Linked DNA regions of Homo sapiens: all the other regions are reported to be linked to region 3. Evidence: microRNA targets listed by miRTarBase, many of them from high-throughput screens and not tested one by one. Region 3 holds a microRNA gene; each other region holds the end of a gene's coding sequence.

Region 1 (3,064 bases), not on the chromosome of region 3:
TGCTTAAATTTGATCTTTTCCTTGCTCACAAGAATTAAAGACACAAGCACATAGAGCACAGAAAGTTCTAGTTCTCTGTATGTAGCCAGCCTACTCAAACCACAGCTAACCAGGCTCTAGAGGTGAGGCCCTGAGGAGGGAACCCCAGGAATAAAAATACAGAGCAGGCTATTTCGGAGATGCCCTCCAAGAACACTGGTGTGTGAGGCAGGTGGGAAACTTAAGTGAGGTGACGAGGTGCTCTTTCCTTCTCTGCTGGTGCTGCTTCTGCTGCCACCAGCGCCCACTCCTCCTCCCTACCCGTGGGCAGCACAGGGTGTGTGACAGCAGGCCACATCCCAGAGCCCACCCCTCTCATGTCTCTGTTTCCTTGCAGGCCCTTTGGACAGGCACTTCGGCCCCTCCTGGACTCCATTCAGATCCAGCCTCCAGGAGGGAGCTCCGTGGGCAGACCCAACGGCCAGAGCTAACAGGACTGCCTGGGACCGCCCTGCCTCACCAGGGCTTTTCCTTTTTAAACAAAACAAACCCTACCAGATTTCTATTTTATAATTTTACATCAGAGCTAACAACCAGGGGACGGCTTTTTAAATTTCCCAGGGAAGGAGACCGTCAGGCCGCATGTAGACAATGCTGCTAAGAAACAGAACAAAATGCCACCCCTTCTAATAGTATTATACTAATTTATTAAGGCTGTCTTGTCTGTGCGTTCACTTCGGATGCTGTTTCCTAAGCGTCCTCCACACTGGAGAAAGGGAGGGGCTTTGTTTAAACAGAAAGCGAGTCACAGTTTGCGGGAGCCCCAACCTAGAACTCTTTCCAGAGAACACTCACGCTCTACCCAAGTTGCCAACACCTGTGGGACCCAGGTGAGTTTTAGAACATCCGTGACCCAGAAAGTTACTCTAGTGTTAAATGAACCAAAGGATTTGGTGTACATGGGACCGGTTTCAGGATGACTAACCTAACCTAAGTGAACTCTTTAGCCACAACCCTCACCTTCCCTCCCTTACCCCAAGCAAGGCCAGTGCTGGAGCAGCCATTGCCTCCGGATCAAGGGAGTAACAGCAAGTATCAGGCCGGAGAAAACAGGATAAAGCCATTCCTCCTTCCACCTAGATGGATTGCCAATCTTCTGCCATCAATTTTGGGAAACCTGCCTTTGTGCCCCCGAGGCTGCCTTTCCTCAGCATAGCTGACTTGTCATAGTGGATGAGGTCTGGGCTGGAGCAGTAGAAGCCAAGGCCTTTTTTCTGCAAGTAATGATGTAGGTTATTTGCAGTCTCTGTAACCACCATCCAGGCCAGTACGCAGTATTTAGCTGGGGACCAAGGGATGGGATTCCCTACTCTAAGAAAATACCTTTATTTTAATTATTATTATTTTTTGAGACGGAGTCTCGCTCTACCACCCAGGCTGGTGTGCAGTGGCATGATCTCGGCTCACAGAAACCTCTGCCTCCCGGGTTCAAGTGGTTCTCCTGCCTCAGCCTCCTGAGTAGCTGGGATTACAGGTGCGTGCCACCACGCCAGGCTAATTTTTGTATTTTCAGTAGAGACAGGGTTTTGCCATGTTGGCCAGGCTGGTCTGGAACTCCTGACCTCGGGTGATCCACCTCCCTTGGCCTCCCAAAGTGCTGGGATTACAGGCGTGAGCCACCGCTGCCTGGCCAGAAAATACCTTTGATATGGAAAGAATAATGATGTGAGGCCTGGCGCGGTGGCTCACGCCTGTAATCCCAGCACTTTGGGAGGCCGAGGCAGGCAGATCACTTGAGGTCAGGACTTCAAGACCAGCCTGGCCAACATGGTGAAACCCCGTCTCTACTAAAAATACAAAATTAGCCGGGCATGGTGGCGCATGCCTGTAGTCCCAGCTACTCGGGAGGCTGAGGCAGGAGAATCGCTTGAACCCGGGAGGCAGAGATTGCGATGAGCCGAGATCGTACCAGTGCACTCCAGCCTGGGCGACAGAGTGAGACTCCATCTCAAAAAAATAAAATAATGAAGTGGAATCAAGGTGGCAAGAAAATTTAGAATCGTTTCTGATAGGGACTTTCCCTTATCCTAAATGTGTTTTGAAGGCACACGTTATTTCCATTGTCATTCTGACTTTAGAAAGGCAGGTTGGGGCATGAGTGGGCATTTTCCTAATGACTTGCTGCTAGGAGGTTATAGGCAGGGAACAGTCTGGGAGTCTCTAATCCAGAGAGACTTTCAGATTCCCTCTCTTCACATGAACCTCCATTAGTTAGATTTTGGGAAAGTGAGCATGAAGAAGGGACTCAGAGCTGCCAGGTACCCGAGTCTCAGGTCTGACATCCTTGGGCCCCTTCTGCCACAACTTCTTGCCACTTCACGGACTTGAATTATGTTGCTTCTTCCTGGAAGTCTGGCCTGCAGCACAGGCCTTTCCTCTCCAAAAAGCTGCTGCTCATTTCTGGCCCCATCTGCTGCTATCTTTGCCATCAGCCATCACAGTTTGGCATCATCAGAGTCTCAGCTAGAGGAGCTGTCATTCTGCCTTAGTGTTTGCCTGCGACCTGACCAGGGGCATGACCAGCTGGGATGTCAAGTGACATTTGGGAACTTGTAGAGGCCAAATGATTGAAAGTTTAATTCTTCTCAAGACCCACTGATTTGCCAGTGTGCATGGAAATAATAGATTAGAGCAGAAACTAGCAGGGACTGTTGTATAATCGTGATCTACTAGCAGAATTGGGCCCAAAGAGAAAGAATTTCTGAGGCTGGGTTTCTTCTGGGAGGGTAGCAGGTTGGTCTTGGCCAGTGCTCTGTTTCCCACCAGTGTTGTTCCCTTTTCCAGCTTGCCTGGCCCGGCTCTGTCTTCCAGGGTCCTGCTCCAGACCCCTCTGCCTGGGGTCTCCCCTCCATCCAGGGGGTTCTGGGCATCACAGCTCCTTTTTTTCCTTTCTCCTCTTCCAGATCCAGTTTCAGCTGGTTTGCTTCTTCCAGCAGGCACCCTTAGGCCCAGGAGCAGCTCCCCTGAGAGAATTTGAGTCACTCATTTCCTTGAACAGCACCCCCCTTTATACTAGCAGCCATTT
Region 2 (3,064 bases), not on the chromosome of region 3:
CTACATAATTGTTCTGTTGGTTAATATGCCCAAAATAATAGTTACTATCATTACATCTTACAGAAACAAAAACTTTAAGCTTATTACTTTTCAGAAGGAAAAAAGTATCCTATAACTGAAAATAATTTTCGCCACAATAGCAAAATAGAAAAAATAAATCTTCCTGAAACATTAGCAAGAGATTTTAGTTTTTATTTGTTTAAAGAGTATAGGTGGTGGTTTCAAGAAAAGACTTTTGCTAAAAGCAGCTAGCAATAAGATTATGGCTATCAAACCAGTTTCTTTCATAGAAAGTGACCATTCCTTGAAGTGCTACTGTTTTTGAAAGTTTCTTAGAACAGTCTCAGCATTCTAAACAGTCTGTAGTTCTACATATTTGTTGTTGCAATCTTGGGCAGGAAAATCACTAATAACAGGAAACAGAGGCCGGGCACGGTGGCTAACGCCTGTCTTCCCAGCACTTTGGGAGGCTGAGGTGGGCAGATCACAAGGTCAGGAGTTTGAGACCAGCCTGACCAACAGGGTGAAACCCCATCTCTACTAAAAATACAAAAATTAGCCAGGCGTGGCCCTGTAATCCCAGCTACTCAGGAGGCTGAGGCAGGAGAATAGCTTGAACCAGGGAGGCAGAGGTTGCAGTGAGCTGAGTTCACGCCATTGCACTCCAGCCCCGGCGACAGAGCAAGACTCTGTCTCAAAAACAAACAAACAAACAAACAGGAAGCAGAGAGCTTTTTGAAAAATAGCCTTGATCAATCCAACAAATACAGTATTCAGAAACACTACAGAGCAACAAAGTCTTCTCATAAGAGTCATATTTATAGTATTTCTTAACAGAAATATAAACCTAAGAATTCCATTCTCTAGATTCAAAAGATTGGCTTGCTCATAACCAGGTCTCAGCGCAATCTGTCCCCAATATATTTAAAATGCAGTTATAAATTCAAAATAAAAATTCGTTTTAATTTTAAGAAAAATGTCAAGAATTACAAGCCATATTAAAGCAAACTAGTTAGCAGGTTATGATTCCATTACAATTACAATACTGTTGTGCAGAACATTACTGCGGGAACATGCAGAGTACCTTTTTAAAAATAACTTCCCTTGAGTGTATTTGTTTCCGTTGAAGTTGGATTTAATGTTTGAAAATTACCTAAACTCATCTGGACCAGTGGTATCGTGAGTAAGATACGTGATTAAGCTGGATACTTGTGGTTCAAATTAAGTTGTGACTATTAAGAAACTCTACTTACCTTCTTGTGAGACTCAAACTGACTTTAAAACAATTCCAAACAATACCAAGAGAGCCTCTCAAGTGGCTGTTCCAAGTAACAACTATCATTTAAATAATTCATAAATCTTACTTTGAGTGGAAAGTTGAACTACATGGTCTCTGATACCCCTTCCAATGCTCAATCTTTACAATCATACCTCATACATACAAATAATTCCTACACACATTGTATTAGAAATGGGCATCTTATAAAATGGAAGTATTACATAATAGAGTACATTTCCTTGAAACCAATCACATATTAATTTATTCCACCTAAAAACATACTACCATTAAAAGTATAACTGAGCAAATGCAGAAGCCAGCTTCTGGATTCTTAATGATCACTTTAATATGAGTGGAGGTGATTAATACTTATGGTACAGACTCACTAGTCTGCAAAATAATTCAAGAGAAGTCAATATTTATTAGACAATAAAATAATTGTTCCAAAGGATATTTCTAAATAACTTCAAAGAAGTTACCACAAAGTTAAAAAGGAATATCTTCCATGTTAAGTTTGTGATAAAATAATTTAAACACATGATTGACTCTACAAATCTTTTTTACAAATTACTTCAGAAGTTATAAGAGGAAATGTTTTTCTTTTTCCTCTGCTATCTCTTATTTTTTCCTTCCTACTTCTGATCCCCTTAATATACAATATTATTGATGTAAACTCAAGAATTCATGGTAAAAGGCATCTTTTTGCTTCACAGAAATCATGACCTATAGAGAAAACAAGGTAAAAACTAAGGAAAACTGAACATTGAACTTTTTTCAAAAAAATTACAAAATAGGATGTATAACATTATCTTTGGAAAACAGACATTTTCTTTCTACTAGAAATAGCAAAAATCATTCTACATTTTTTCTTCCCCAATTGCATGTTCAATTAGCATACATTCCAACAGTGTGCATGAAAAAATTTCTAAGCCAGAGGTATTTAAGTGATTTCTTCCTAAGTGTTTTGGCTAATTCAGTGGCCAAGAAACTATGATGTTTATTCTCTGATTGGACAGAGTCAAGAAACAAAACAGATATAATTACCAAGGGATAAAGCTGATATGACCCAGCAACAATCTGTCATTACTTCAGCTGTTAGTCGGTCTTCTCCCCCCACCCAGCCCCACAAAAAAAGTTCTGCTCTGCTTAAGTGTACAAGACTCCAGTGAACTTCCAACAGTTTGGCTTCAAGTGACCTAGGAATGGAGTGAGTCATCTGTAAAGCCTGGAGTGGTCCAAATAACACAGATAACTTCAGTAACAACTGGAAACAGCTGGCTCCAAATCAGGGAGCTACCCAATCTTCAGTGACAAGGAGGAAACAAAGTCCAAGCTTCTAAAACACGTAACGACAAGTCCAGGAACGTGGCCGGACATAATCCAAAAATGTGGGCTGCAGTGGGGAAAAATAAGAATGGAAAAATAATTTGTGTACAGAGTAGAGGAGGTGTGGAGATAGGCAGGGATGTTAATATGATACATTGTACATCTCTAAAATGCCTCCCACCATTTCAACAACCCTCAAGGTATAAGCAGCTCACTAATTCAAAAGATGTTCAGTACTTTTATCTATAACACAGATTTATTCAATTAGGTGCTTCACATAAAGCTTTTAAAGTCCAGTAAACTATACACAATTGTGTGGACTTTGACCAGTTTCTAAATAGGCACTATTTCTTTCTGTATCTTTATTTTAGCACAGCCCTACTTTTAGTACCTTAAAATCTAAATGGTGGTTAAGGACGACAAATAGATATATATATATATATTTATATATAACCACCA
Region 3 (3,075 bases):
AAGAGAAAGGAAGGCCCAGCTAAGACCCAATTAAGAAAATCCCAGAACCAAGAACGAATTGACTGTTCGGCTTTGGTAATCTCCAACGTGTCCACCAGGTGGTGCTGTCCAGCCACGAATCTCCCAGCTTTGATCTCGGGCTTTGGCCGAGGGCACCTCCAGGGCTGGGGTCTCTCATCGTGTTGTCCCCACTTTATTCCAACGTCCACCCCAGGCCTGGGGGAGCCCAGGGAGGACCGAGTCTCCTGGGCCCCGCAGGGCGCACAGAGGTGAGTTTGGTGGTGCCGTCCCGACCTCGACAAGCATCCCAGCGAAGCAGGCTGAGCGCCCGGCTGGCTCCCTCAGGTCCCCTCTTCCGGGCCTTCTCCGTCCTGTTGATTTGGGTGTTTTAATGCAGGAAAGTAGGACACTGGTTGTCACCTGCCTGCTCCTACAAGGAAAATGCATGTTTGTGTGGTTATCCGTGGCCACCCCCACCAGGGCCTGCGGGGGGCCCAGTGCAGTGGAGGTGGGGAGGGGACTCGTGGGCTCCAGGATCCGTGGAGAGTGAGTGTCAGCGGGAGGGCGTCCCCCGACCTTGGTCAATGGAAGCTGCTCTTCCTGGGGGTCCTGCGGGAGGCCCGTGATGGGGGTGGGGGAGGAGGGGTAAACACCGGGCCCTGATTGGCCGCCTGTCCTTGGGTCTTTGCTGGTCCTAAGAGGGAACGGGGAGCACAGCTGGGGTCACAGCCTCAGCTGGGACTCCTGCCCTCCAGCACCTCAGCATCCTCCCTGCGGGTGCTCTCCTGGGGGCTGCTCAGGGCAGGTGGCAAGTAGGGGGCTGTGGGACCAGAGACAGGGGGTGGACATGCCCAGGGCCTGCCCTTTTGGCCTGCCGTGGAGACCCACCCAGGAGCACCTGGGGGCTGACCCTCCCCTGCAGAGAGCAGGGTGAATCCCAGCCCTGCCCTCACCTAACAGCCGGGTTCGAGGGGAGCGTAATTTATAATGAACCCCACTCCTCCCCCAACACCCGCCACAGGCAGGAGCCAGCCTCTCTCCTGACACCAAAGTCATGCTCCTGACCCTGCAGGCCACAGGGTGAGGAGGACCCAGAGGGGCAGCAGGGTGGGGGCGTTTCATAAGCCAGGGAGAGCTGCCCCTGTACATCCTCAGGCCTCACAGTGGAGTGAGGGGCGGGGGTCGCCTGCGTCCTCCACAGGAGCTCCTGTCATTCCACCTCCGGGGGTGCACTTGCCGACTTACCCCAGCCCTGGACTCACAGGCTGTGCTGCTGTCTGCCCAGGGCCTGGCGATTGCTGCGCCCATGATGGGTCCCACAGGCAGGCCCTGCCCTCCCATCGCTGGCTTCTGAGCAGGGGCTTTGGGGCTGCTGGACCTCAGAGGCAGAGCCGGGGCTTCTGGTGTCCCTATGTCTTGGATGCCTGGTGTCCTGAGGCCAGCGCCCCCCAGCTTGCACTGGGACCGTCCATGGAAGCAACTCCTCTTTCATCTCAGGCACTGGGGGTCCCAGGGCCAGGGAAGGGGCTGCGCAGCACCTCAGGAGCCCAGAAGAGCTGCCCGCCAGGGAGGAGGAGCTGGGGGGAGCAGAGGCCTGGACCAGCTGGGATGTTCCCATCGGCGTGTCCCTCCCGCCCAGGCCACGTGGGCAGGGGAGGAAGAAGGGAGGAGGAGCGGAGGGGCCCTTGTCTTCCCAGAGCCTCTCCCTTCCTCCCCTCCCCCTCCCTCTGCTCATCTCATCATGAGACAGCTGGCAAGGGCCTTCGGCTGCCCTGGAGTGCCCCTGCCCTGGCCAAGCTCTTGCCGCCCCCTTCTTCTGGAGGTGCCAGATGGGGCGGGCCCAAGGCAGTGGAGGTCTGGGCCCTGGCTCCAGCTCTGTCTCCTCCTGAGGGCCCTGGAGGAGCCAGGAGGAGGGCCTAGCAGGGCCGGGCAGATGGTGGGCCGGGAGGAGGGGCTGCCTGGGTAGACGGACCGACTGGCAAGACAGATGGTGGACCAGGCAGGGGTCCGGAGCCCGCCCCATCTGCTCCAGTCCCTGGTGGGACTTTTCTTGTCCACCTCGGGCTGAACTGGGATGGACTGTGTGGGTGGCTGTGGCCCAGGCCGGATTCTGTCACACTGGGTCCTCTGTCCCTGGGGCATGGCCAGCCGGGTGCTCATCTGGGGTCTTGAAGCCTCCTCCTGGCAGCTGGCACGTGGCTGGAGGTCATCATGTTTCGGGGGCTCCTGAGGGTCTGGGGGCCATGACTGAGCAGAGCCTGGGGCGCGTCCCGGGAATGAAGCCACCGCTGCAGATGAGGGGCTTTGTAGGTGGGTGGGTGACTGTAGCCCCTGGAGGGGCTGCCTGGGGCCCAACGCTGATAGGGCCCGGGACAGGAAGATGCTTAGTCACGTGTTTGCGCTGCAGGTGCACCCCCAGCCCAGGCGACATCAACGGCCAGCCCCACACACGTGAGGAGGGATTGTGGGCCCAGGGGCGCTCAGGATGGGGCCGGGCTGCTTCTCAGAAGAGGGGACGCTGAGCCCAAGCAGGCTGCACTCCTGCTTGGACGGAAGGTGGATGGGTGGGGTGGGAAGGGGTGGGAAACGCCCAGCCCTGATGGGCTTGCGGGAGCCTGCGGGAGGGCCTTGCGTCTAGCTAAGGCGTGGGGAGCACCTCCCGTGGCCCCGTCCTTAGACCCCCGAGGGGTGGGGCGCTGCGGGTGGATCCTGGGGGTCTGAGGGTGCCAGGAGGATTTCTCATGTTGAGTTCTAGTGTTGATGATGCTAATCCAAAAAATACCTGAACCAAAAACCAATTCCAAAGAAAATCCCGTGCAGCAATGGCTTTCGATCGGCTGCGGCTTCTGTGGAACAGCTTCGGTGTCTTTGGCGTTTGGTGTTTTCGGACAGGCTCGGAAGTCACGCTCCCCAGGCTCAGGAACCCCTCCTTTAAAGGAGGTCGGTCCGTTTCCTCAAGTCACAGGAGCAGACGCAGGGTGGGGGCGTGGGGCGTCATGGGGAACAGCAGGCGGGGTGCCAGGGTCAATGTTAAGGTCCAGGTCACTCTCCAAGGAGCCCGCTGAGGGCTCAGGG

Evidence for each region. The annotated mature microRNA hsa-miR-4739 reads AAGGGAGGAGGAGCGGAGGGGCCCU and lies in region 3 at 1,662-1,686, shown strand. An mRNA with a match to its seed (bases 2 to 7 or 8) in the 3' UTR can be bound and repressed. Matches are read on the target gene's strand: a 7mer-m8 pairs with bases 2 to 8, a 7mer-A1 pairs with bases 2 to 7 and ends in A, and an 8mer does both.
Region 1: miRTarBase lists DESI1 as a target of hsa-miR-4739. Seed matches in the 3' UTR shown: 7mer-m8 at 1,004-1,010 and 7mer-m8 at 1,615-1,621.
Region 2: the mRNA of SOAT1 is a reported target of hsa-miR-4739. Seed matches in the 3' UTR shown: 7mer-m8 at 621-627.

What each region holds. Positions count from the first base shown.
Region 1 is chr22:41,598,503-41,601,566 of GRCh38, reverse strand. It overlaps DESI1 (desumoylating isopeptidase 1), which reads left to right. Exons shown (of 6, transcript NM_015704.3): 6 at 377-3,064. The coding sequence ends at 470. Among named protein-coding and RNA genes, the nearest start is that of PMM1, 10 kb to the right of the region's middle.
Region 2 is chr1:179,353,193-179,356,256 of GRCh38, reverse strand. It overlaps SOAT1 (sterol O-acyltransferase 1), which reads right to left. Exons shown (of 16, transcript NM_003101.6): 16 at 1-2,672. The coding sequence ends at 2,616. Among named protein-coding and RNA genes, the nearest start is that of AXDND1, 11 kb to the left of the region's middle.
Region 3 is chr17:79,705,827-79,708,901 of GRCh38, reverse strand. It overlaps MIR4739 (microRNA 4739), which reads left to right and starts at 1,653; the gene lies at 1,653-1,726. It overlaps LINC02078 (long intergenic non-protein coding RNA 2078), which reads right to left and starts at 1,636. Exons shown (of 2, transcript NR_109783.1): 1 at 1,246-1,636; 2 at 1-430. RefSeq lists enhancers at 551-1,172, 1,173-1,794.